4 separate regions of the Homo sapiens genome follow, and all the other regions are linked to region 2. Evidence: fine-mapped expression QTL. A gene starts in region 2. Each other region holds a variant in brackets. All regions are shown on one strand. Distances are from middle to middle.

What was found. PIP is the estimated chance that this variant, and not a neighbour inherited with it, causes the effect.
Region 1: its variant is the best candidate, but not a certain one, in a credible set for the expression of MAP3K21 in monocytes after interferon gamma (Fairfax 2014, PIP 0.70).
Region 3: its variant is the best candidate, but not a certain one, in a credible set for the expression of MAP3K21 in whole blood (INTERVAL, PIP 0.84).
Region 4: its variant is the best candidate, but not a certain one, in a credible set for the expression of MAP3K21 in lung (TOPMed, PIP 0.51).

Annotation. Positions count from the first base shown.
Region 1 is chr1:233,366,655-233,369,339 of GRCh38, forward strand. The region is part of intron 5 of MAP3K21 (mitogen-activated protein kinase kinase kinase 21); the gene reads left to right. Among named protein-coding and RNA genes, the nearest start is that of MAP3K21, 40 kb to the left of the region's middle. The variant CA/C (reference allele first, on the strand shown) is at 1,205.
Region 2 is chr1:233,326,170-233,328,854 of GRCh38, forward strand. It overlaps MAP3K21 (mitogen-activated protein kinase kinase kinase 21), which reads left to right and starts at 1,555. Exons shown (of 10, transcript NM_032435.3): 1 at 1,555-2,664. The coding sequence starts at 1,860. It also overlaps a transcript of PCNX2 not described here. RefSeq lists silencers at 1,069-1,368, 1,559-1,858, 1,658-1,809, 1,999-2,198.
Region 3 is chr1:233,453,753-233,456,437 of GRCh38, forward strand. No RefSeq gene overlaps it. Among named protein-coding and RNA genes, the nearest start is that of MAP3K21, 130 kb to the left of the region's middle. The variant G/T (reference allele first, on the strand shown) is at 1,402.
Region 4 is chr1:233,357,300-233,359,984 of GRCh38, forward strand. The region is part of intron 4 of MAP3K21 (mitogen-activated protein kinase kinase kinase 21); the gene reads left to right. Among named protein-coding and RNA genes, the nearest start is that of MAP3K21, 31 kb to the left of the region's middle. The variant T/C (reference allele first, on the strand shown) is at 1,573.

The DNA of each region.
Region 1 (2,685 bases), 40 kb after region 2:
TCTCCGAAACATATTCTAGAGTCCTCCAAGCTGACCTTTAATATTTGTGCCTGCAGATCTTTCAAAAACTTGGTATTAAATATGAATCATTACATTCTCTTGTAACTTTGTCCTCGAGAATTACTGCTGATCGTTTTTAATCTTATGGGTATTTATAGCTATGGTGATTTAGTGATAGAAACCTCAAAAGTGATTTTTTTTTCCTCCTGGAATTTCTTCATGGCTGGCTACCAAATAAGGAAGATTAATGCTTAAAAAGTAAGACAGTAATAATCTAGGATAATAATTTTAAAACAATACTTTGTGATTATGTAGTATTTTTCTTGGAATTTGCAAGAGAAAAAAGCATGGTCACAGTGCATCTTTTTATTTTGTGAGTACTCTATATTGATTGCTCCTTCTGTTTATGTTTACTTTTAACTGAAGTTGTGTTTTTTGGACACGTTAATACAAGACAAAAGCTTTAAAGCCTCCAAAAGTTGGTATGTCACTAAAGCAGTGGCATTCTAACTTTGATTGCTTCAGAAGTGTCCAAAGCCTGCAAAAACCATCTACCTCACAGGTATGCGAGTGAGTAGAAGGGTGGATGGGAGAGAGCATATAACCTCACCTGGATTCTTTAGAGAATACATTCCTTTTCATCTGCAAATGGAAGCCTCCCACTGAGGCAATTAGCTTTGTTAGTGAAATATTCATATTGCCAGCAAAAATACTAGGATAGGTTTTACTCAAGCCTGTGATTGAACTATAGCTGCTATGACCAGGCATCTTGAGAACCATTATTCTAGTGAGTACAAAGAAAATCTGAGCACAGGCCACAGGCATTTTAACAATTCAGCTTTAGTTTTCCCAAATGTTTAGCTGGCACAGACTCAACCTTTCCCTACTTCAAAGGGACAAGGATGTTTACGATAAAGAATGTTGGCTGGGCGTGGTGGCTCATGCCTGTAATCCCAGCACTTTGAGAGGCCAAGGCAGGCAGATCACCTGAGGTCAGGAATTCGAGACCAGCCTGGCCAACATGGAGAAACCCCATCTCTATTAAAAGTACAAATATTAGATGGGCGTGGTGGCAGGCACCTGTAATCCCAGCTACTCAGGAGGCTGAAGCAGGAGAACTGTTTGAACTCAAGAGGCAAGGTTGCAGTGAGCTGAGATCTCGCCACTGCACTCCAGCCTGGGTGACAGGAGCAAGACTCCGTCT[CA/C]AAAAAAAAAAAAAAAGAATGTTTTCTTTCTGTTTACAACATAAAGTATGCTTTTCAAGTGGAAGTATTTAGGTGTTTTTGGAAGGTTGGAAGCACTCTGAATCTTAGGTGTTGTTAAAATGCAGCCTTGTATCTTTGCTGCTCTCACCCGTGGCTTTCCACGTGTTCCATGTTGGTTTCCTGATCTGTGCTTAGTATTTATTGTCCCATCATTTGTTCCAAATAACTTGTCAATCAGATCCTGTGGCTTGGTTCTTGGCTTTCTTCTGTTATTGACAGGAGGGCTCCTCTTGCTGTAAAAGTTCTCAGAGCATTTGTTTCTGTCGTGTTGTAACAATCAGGTGGCTAGCTGAACATTTATAAATGACTTTAGTCTAAACTGTTTCCTTTCTATGGTTAAGAATTTTTTTTCTTTGACCACCTCTTTCCCCCAACTACCACCACCTAGTCTAGTCAATTTTTTACCTCAACTGCTCTGCCCTGGTCAAGTCTTTCAAAAGGAATGACTTGGGGCTAGGTGCAGTGACTCACGCCTGTCATCCCAAGCACTTTCAGAGGCCAAGGCAGGTGGATTGCTTGAGCCCAGGAGTTCAAGACCAGCCTGGGCAACATGGTGAAACCCCATTTCTACAAAAATATACAAAAATTAGCTGGGCATAGTGGTGCATGCCTGTAGTACCAGCTACTCAGAAGGCTGAGACAGGAAAATTGCTTGAGCCAGGGGAGGTCAAGGCTGCAGTGGACTGAGATTGCACCACTGCACTCCAGCCTGGATAACAGAGTAAAATCTTGTCTTTAAAAAAAAAAAAGTATGACTCAGCAGATGGAGGAGCCTCCCATTTGGTCTTTCCTTTCCGTTTGGTTTGTCTTCCAAATCTCCTCCAGCCTGCTGTGTATTCCTCAGCAACTCACTTCAAGCACCAGCCTGATCCTGTAGATGAACCCTGCATAACTTTCTCCGTCAACAAACACCTGAGGATCTGCTGTGTCCCCAGTACTAGGGGTGATTATAAAACATATATGCAGTCTCTGCACTCATGTTTCCCACAGAGAAAGTACTCATTCAGCAAAGTTTTCTAAGTACCTGTAATGTGCAAGGCACTGTGCCAGTCTGAAGTCATGGAGACTGTCATGGTCACTGCCCATAGAGCACTTACCTTATATTGAGGGAGGGGGCAGAACTTAAGCTAATAATTCAATACTTATTTGCTTCTATAATCATTAGCTGCTGTGAGGGAAAAGTCACATGACAGTGACTAGTGCAGAGATGTAACCTGGTCTAAGGTGATCATAGAAGGCTTCCTAACGGAGTTCGAAACCAGCCTGGGCAACACGGTGAAACCCCGTCTCTAGTAAAATACAAAAAAAAAAAAAAAAAAAATTAGCCAGGTGTGGTGGTGTGCGCCTGTAATCTCAGCTACTCAGGAGGGTGAGGCAGGAGGATTGCTTGAACCCGGGAGGTGGAGGTTGCAGTGCACTG
Region 2 (2,685 bases):
ACAGTATACTGGAAACATAACTTGTATATATATGCACTGGGAAATCAAAAAATTCATGTCACTTGCTTTATTGCAGTGATCTGGAACCATGCTTGCAGTATCTCCAAAGTATGCCCATACTTTAAATAGTTAGATTACTTATAATACCTAATATAATGTAAATGCTCTGTAAATAGTTGTTATGCTGTATTTTATTTGTATTATTTGTATTGTTATTTTTTGGGTTTTTAAAAAACATTTTTGACCAGCTGTTGGTTGATTCTGTGGATGCAGAAGACCCACTGTAAAACTATTAACTCATTTAGTCTTCCTAAAAACCCTATAAAGTAGGTACTATTTATTATATTCCCATTTTATAGATGAGAAAACTGAGTCATAGAGAAATAAAGAAACTTGCTCAAGGTCACACAGCCAATAAATAGTTTGATCTGAGAGACAAAGAAAACTGAAAAGACAATAAATTTATCTTTATGTAACTCAGAATGTTACTGTATGTCCTATCCTCATAATATCTAAAATTGTCCCTTCTGTTATTGGAAGTACAGGATCCACACGTTAGGAAATTCTGGCCTACTACAGGATAATCTAATATTTTAGAATTTTAATAACTAAGCTCTTCTATCTTTTTAGCCTCATCACCTGCCACAGTAACCTACCAACGTCTGGCACCCAGCCATTGCCAATGCTTCCTAAACCCAAACCTGTGGGTTTCCAGGGAGACTGGGGCATTTTCCATCTGAGTAGACAGTAAAAATAAGCAAAGGATTTACCATCATGGAGCTTCTGGGACTATACCGACCACGGGTCACTCTGCGCTGCGATCTGTAACCTAGTCAGTTCTGAGATGCACGGTGGCTCAAACGCACTTAGCATGGTGACTTGCCACTCGCACTGGCCCAGGTCTGGCACCGCGCTACAATTTCTTCTGTAGCCCGTTCTGAGATTCTGTCACTCTCCCTGAACTGCAACTCTCTCTCTCCCCGCCACACCCTAAAGCCCCACATCTTCTCAACCCTCTCCCACCGCTTCTTGGAGAAGCGTCCCCTCCCTCAGTCTTACCTTTGGCTTAATTTAAACTCTCCCGAAAATTTATAGCGGATGACGGCCGATCCCGCCTCCCAGACCATGTGGGCGCGGCTCACCATTGCTCCGGAGCACCTGCGGCGGGGGCGGGGTGGGACCAGCCAGGCGGGCCCAGGGGGCGGGCCCGGCCCAAGGTGGTGGGGGACGGGCCCGGGCGCCAGGGGCGGGACGAGGCTCTGGGGACTGGCACAGAAAAGGGAAGTGAACCTGGCGAGGGCGGGGCGGGATGGTGCAGTTGGTGGGGAAGGGTGGGGCGAACCTAGGAAGGCGGTCCCATAGGGCGGGCGCAGACTGGGCGCCCGGGACGGGTCAAGGAGGGCGGAATGAACCTGGAGAGGGCGGGGCGGCTGGGGGAGGGGCGGGAAGGCCCTGGGGACTGGCCTAGGGGCGGGCCCGGGGGGGTGGGGGGGCGGTGCGGAATGGAGCCGGAGGGGGCGGGGCGGCCCTGGCGCGGCTAGGGTGGGGTGGGGCGTCCCAGGCTCTGGCTAAGGAGCGCGCGGCGGGCGGGCCGGCCGCAGGGCCTGGGCACGACCATGGTGGGACGTCGCCCGCGGCTTCGGGGACCGCTGCGGCAGCAGAGGCGGCTGGCCAGGAACGCGGGCCGAGGCTGGACCCTTTGGGCAGCTAGCCCGTGATCTCTGCCGTCACCGATCGCGATTCCTACCCCCTCGCCTTCCCCCGGCGCCGACGGCCACACCGCCGGACGATGCGCGCCCGCGGCCGCCCGGGAGGCTGAGCCCAGCTTCCCGCTCCGCCTTCCCCGCGCAGCTGCCCCCATGGCTTTGCGGGGCGCCGCGGGAGCGACCGACACCCCGGTGTCCTCGGCCGGGGGAGCCCCCGGCGGCTCAGCGTCCTCGTCGTCCACCTCCTCGGGCGGCTCGGCCTCGGCGGGCGCGGGGCTGTGGGCCGCGCTCTATGACTACGAGGCTCGCGGCGAGGACGAGCTGAGCCTGCGGCGCGGCCAGCTGGTGGAGGTGCTGTCGCAGGACGCCGCCGTGTCGGGCGACGAGGGCTGGTGGGCAGGCCAGGTGCAGCGGCGCCTCGGCATCTTCCCCGCCAACTACGTGGCTCCCTGCCGCCCGGCCGCCAGCCCCGCGCCGCCGCCCTCGCGGCCCAGCTCCCCGGTACACGTCGCCTTCGAGCGGCTGGAGCTGAAGGAGCTCATCGGCGCTGGGGGCTTCGGGCAGGTGTACCGCGCCACCTGGCAGGGCCAGGAGGTGGCCGTGAAGGCGGCGCGCCAGGACCCGGAGCAGGACGCGGCGGCGGCTGCCGAGAGCGTGCGGCGCGAGGCTCGGCTCTTCGCCATGCTGCGGCACCCCAACATCATCGAGCTGCGCGGCGTGTGCCTGCAGCAGCCGCACCTCTGCCTGGTGCTGGAGTTCGCCCGCGGCGGAGCGCTCAACCGAGCGCTGGCCGCTGCCAACGCCGCCCCGGACCCGCGCGCGCCCGGCCCCCGCCGCGCGCGCCGCATCCCTCCGCACGTGCTGGTCAACTGGGCCGTGCAGATAGCGCGGGGCATGCTCTACCTGCATGAGGAGGCCTTCGTGCCCATCCTGCACCGGGACCTCAAGTCCAGCAACAGTAAGTGGGGCCAGAGGGAGG
Region 3 (2,685 bases), 130 kb after region 2:
ATGTCTCCCTAAAATCAAGCTGCAGCCAGACCACCTTGGGTACATGTTCTGAGGACCTCCCGAGGCTGTGTCATGGGTGTGTCCCCAACCTTGGCAAAATAAACTTCCAAATTGATTGAGACCTGTCTCAGACACTTTTTGGTTTATACTCCTTACTTGTACCAAGTAATAATTATCCTATGGGGCCAGGTGCAGTGGCTCATGCCTGTTATCCCAGCACTTTTGGAGGCCAAGGTGAAAGAATCACTTGAGCCTAGGAGGTCAAGGCTTCAGTGAACTAGTTTGCACCACTGCACTCTAACCTGGGTGACAGAATTAGACCTCCTTTCAAACAAACAAACAAACAATTGATTTAAAAAAACCCTGCATTCTCTTAAGGAGGCATTTGTTACTTGCCAGGCAAATGAACCCCGGTTTTTTTTTTGGGTAACAGAGGGAGTCAATCAAGAGGCTACCAAGCAATGAAGCAGGTTAGGGCTTGGATTGATGGCCAGACAGAATGCAAAGGTTTTGCTTTCCTATTCAACCAGCCTTAGGAGGGGTCTGGAGTCACTGGCTCACTGGCAATCTGGCATTTTGAGGCCTGGGGGAGTTCTGAACTGGGGCAGGCATTGACGATACAGGCCACCTGGTCACAGCGCACCTGAGTGGTGGAAACACGGGGGAAGCCGAGTATCTTTGAGGGAAAGTCAGACATAGAGTGGGTGGCTCAGGACCTGCAGATCCTTACTGAATCCTGACTGATAATTAAAAATGATCATAAATTCTTTGCCATTCCTCCTATGTACAGATGGAACCTCTTGGTCCACCTGTCCATCTGGGCTGGCCCTGTGACCACTGAGACTGACAGAACACAGCACAGGAATGCCGTGTGTGTCTTAAGCTGGGGCCTCGAGAGGCATTGCAGCTTCCCTCTTCCCCTCTTGCAATGCTGTTGCCTCCTGAACAAGGTAGGGAAAATTGTCATCTGTCAATAATCTCCACTGAGATTATCTCCAGGCTGGTCTCCTTGAGGAAGAGAAACCATGTGCAGACAGAAGCCTGTCTCAGCAGAGGCCCCAAACGTGCAGATGAGCCTGGCTCAAATCAAGCAGCAAATCAGTAATTGTCACTAAATTCTGAGTTGGTTAAATCTTTGATACCCTAAATATTTGGAATTGTCTTTTCCGTTTCTGGCCTGGGGGCTGCCACAAGCTCTGCTACTTCTCCCCACCCATAATGTGTTTTAAATCTCTTCCCAGACCCATTGCTGCAGCTGGGGCTCTGATGGTCTGTCTCCCAGCTGCGTCACTGCAACGGCCTCACAACAGGCTTTTGGCTCTAGTCTTGGGGAACAAACTGCAGTTTGCCCCTGCTTCCTGACACCCCTCTTTGAGAAGACTCCCCTTACCCACATGTGGG[G/T]CACAGCCCGTCTGTGCGCTGGAATCTCCCCTGGGCTGGTTCTCAGCAGCACCTTCCCATAAGGTCAGCTGTCACCAGCGTTCCCCATGGACCCAGTCTCTTTTGTTCGAAAGGTCATAGTCTGTATTGCTCTCGCCCCAGGGCTTGGCAGGTAGTAGGTGCTCAACACACACTTATTGGACAAATGAATGGGCTAAGGTTGGCCCTTGCTGCGGGACAGACAGTGATGCCCACATTTTTTTCTGAGGTCCCACTTAGCTGGTTGTAGTCGATTTGTGAAATGCAAGGAAGTGAAAATATGATCTTGTCACATTTTGCTTGTTCTTTGTTAGCGTATTTTTAACAGTGGGAGTTGCCATGTATAAATGGAGCAGGGCAGGGTGCAGCGGCCCAAGCCTGTAATTCCAGCACTTGGAAGATGGGAAGATTGCTGGAGGCCAGGAGTTTGAGACCAGCCTGAGCAACATAGTGAGACACCATCTCTACAAAAAATTTTAAAAATTTGCTGTGTGTGGTAGGGTTCACCTGTACTCCCAGGTATGTGAAAGGCTGAGTCAGGAGGATCCCTTGAGCTCTGCAGTTCAAGGCTGCAGTGAGCTATAATCACTCTACTGCATCCCAGCCTGGGCAACAGAGTGAGAATCTGTCTAAAAAAAAAAAAAAGCAGGTGGGGGGGTGAGGCAAGAAGGCATTTTGGGGAGGAAGTCTTTTTGGCTCTTTTGGGGTCAGCCCTGAGCTTCTCTGGGTGTTCAATTTTGTGGGCTGACATGCTGGTGACTTTGCATGCAGTGCCCTGACTGCCTCGAACCCTCAGTTGTGTTAGAACAGTGTGTGCCTAGACAACCTCACTGTCTCTAACAGCAGAGATGGGAGAGTTGTCTCCACTTAAATGTCGGGTGAAAATGGAGAGAAAAGTGTATCTGCAGATCACACACCACTCCGAGAGGAAAGTACAGAATGAGAGACTTGGCTTCTATCACAAAATAAGTTAGTCTACGTACGTATGTGGGTTTGTATGGAATGTCTTCTAAGTTTTGCTTCACTTTTAACATTGTAAACACCTGTCTACTTCTTTTTTCTTTTCCTCTGCTTCTCCTCCTCTCATCATCCTCCTTCCCCGCTGACTCTTTGTATCTCTGCCCAAATTCTATTTCTTCTGATTCCCCTCAGCACGCAATGGACAGAAAGAATAATTTAGTAAAAACAAACAAAAAACAGGCCAAAATAATTAATTGGTAAAAATAAATATTTTCAGTCATTTTTTCATTCTTTGATAACTCTTAT
Region 4 (2,685 bases), 31 kb after region 2:
TGTAAATGATGAGTTAATGGGTGCAGCACACCAACAGGGCGCATGTATACATATGTAAGAAACCTGCACGTTGTGCACATGTACCCTAGAACTTAAAGTATAATTAAAAAAAAAAGAAAAAATAAAAATAAAAATAAAAAAATAAAGTAGACATACAGGTAATTCACTCTGTCCCTTAGATTTTTCAGTATTTGGTTACATTGAAAAATGCACAACAGGTAAATGCAACGTAAGACCATGACACCACTAATGAGTACTTAGAGTTCATCAAGGAGAGGCACCAATCCCACCTGCCCTGTTCTGCTCAAACCCATGGAGTTGCGTCTGACTGCGAGCATCATGTCCTAAGGAGCCTCCTGGCATGCATGGGAGAGGATGGGGGAGCCTGGGAGTCCAAGAACAGGAAGAACACACAGCACACAAGGGGGTGGGGACTGCTGGGGCTGCCCATGCATGGGGAGGACTTTCAAGTAGGGAGAGAAGAAACCAGTTGCTTGTTATTCCAGAGTTACGCAGTAGGACTTCTGGGTGAATGCTGCAGGGATGGCAATCTGGTCTCCAAGTCAACGACTTGCTAGCACTTGGAGCTGGCTGACAGAGAAATAGACTGCTTGGGTGACTGCCTGTTTCCTTCTCCAGGACAAGACTGAATGGGAAGTCTTTATGGGATTCTGAAAAATATGATAGACCTCCCTCACCCCCCACCAGGAACTCTGAGTCAGACAGCCCTGTTGGCATTCGGGCTCTTGTGCCTGATGGGTTTTTTTTTTTTTTATACTTTAAGTTCTAGGTGTGCCTGATGGTTTTGAGGCCTCTGACTCTGTTACTCTGTACCTCCTCATCATTGGAGCCATCACTGTAACCCTGTGTCCCTCAGGGCTTGGGCGGGGCTTAAGTGAGTCCTGTATGCAAAGCAGCCAGAGCCCTACCTCTTAGTATGTGCTAAATTAAGTGTTAGTCTCAGGAAAAAAAAAGAAAGTGGTGACCTTTCACAGAAGCTGAGTTTCCCTAGCCCAGGCTTTCTTGGAAAACTGGCTGGAGCACCACTGACTGGAATAGGTTTGACATCCTGCAGTTCTGTGAAGCATTACTACCAGTGATATCATTGACATGTTTCTTGGAAACTTTTATGCACTTTGTTGACTTAAAATGATACAGGAAAGACTCTAATTTGTTTTTTTTTTTTTTAACACTTCCCCAAATTGTTTTCAGGAATTCTAAAATTAGGTGTTTAATTACAAAAATGAAAAAGATTTTGAAGAGCAGGAAAAGCGTTTGAGAAAGAAATAAAGCTTCAAATCATAGAATCTAAAATTTGGAAATGATGTTACTCACAATTAGTTACTGGCTGGGTGTGATGGCTTGCAGCTGTAGTCCCAGCACTTTGTTGGGGGCCGAGGTGAGAGGATTGCTTGAGCCTGGTAAGTTGAGGCTGCAGTGAGCTATGACTAAACTGCTGCACTCCAGCCTGGGCGACAGAGCAAGACCCTGTCTCAAAAAAAAAAATTATTATTATTGTTATTATCTGGAGACAGAGTCTCACTCTGTTACCCAGGTTGCAGTGCAGTGGTG[T/C]GGTCTCGGCTCACTGCAACCTCCACCTCCCGAGTTCAAGTGATTCTCCTGCCTCAGCCTCCCGAGTAGCTGGGATTACAGGCGCCCACCACCACACCCGGCTAATTTTTTTTGTATTTTTAGTAGAGACGGGGTTTCACCATGTTGGCCAGGCTGGTCTCAAACTCCAGATCTCAGGTGATCCTCCCACACTGGCCTCCCAAAATGCTGGGATTACAGGCATGAGCCACCAGGCCCGGCCTTATTTTAACGTATTTTAATTATTGACAACTATTTATAAAACTGGAAGATATAGGCATCTCTAGTGAGTTCATAATTATATGTTGTATTAAAATAAAAGCATGCTTCAAGGGTGGATGTCAGCTCTTTCTCTACTTTGCGATTTGTAGTAATTTATTTTTTGGTTGATTTTTGAGCTACCATGTAGTAGTGTCTATTTTTACTTTGTGTTTTATTTTTGTGCATTGTTCCTTGAAATACAGCATTTATGTTACCCTGTAAGCCTTTGGATTTACAATTAAAGAATATATAATGCTTTTTTTTGGCTTCGAAGTTTCCAGCTGCATCTTTTTTGATGAAGTAAAAAGCATAGTGTACGTGCCCTATCTCCCTTTCTTGTCCACAGATTGCTTAAGGTAGGAGGCATCAGACTTGGAATTAATGGTGAGTAACTTGGCTGTGGTCTGTGTTATTCAGTAAGCCGTAGCCTCCGTAGATACTGGGTCCTCCCTAAACTCCTGGCTCCTTATCTCTGTGTGTCTGTATTTGTGCATTTTGTGCATGCACCTGTCTGTGACCCCCCACACAGAGGCATGCCACCGTTAATGATTAACAGCCACTGCCAGGGATCTGGATTTGCCATTACCAGAGTGGCCTGTGCCAAGCAATTCAACAAATATTACTGCTAGTAATCTCATCAACCGAAAGAATGTTTTTGTGCTTCATACTTTTGAAGTATTCAAAGGGTTCTAATACCCCAGTTTTAAAATTTACTTTTGAATGTGTTCAAATTTATTCAGAAGGAAGATTACTTTTGCTGCTTTCTCTTCAATCTTATTTTTTTCTTTTCTGAAGTCTTAGGCAAGTGATTTTTTGTTTATTATTCACAAATTT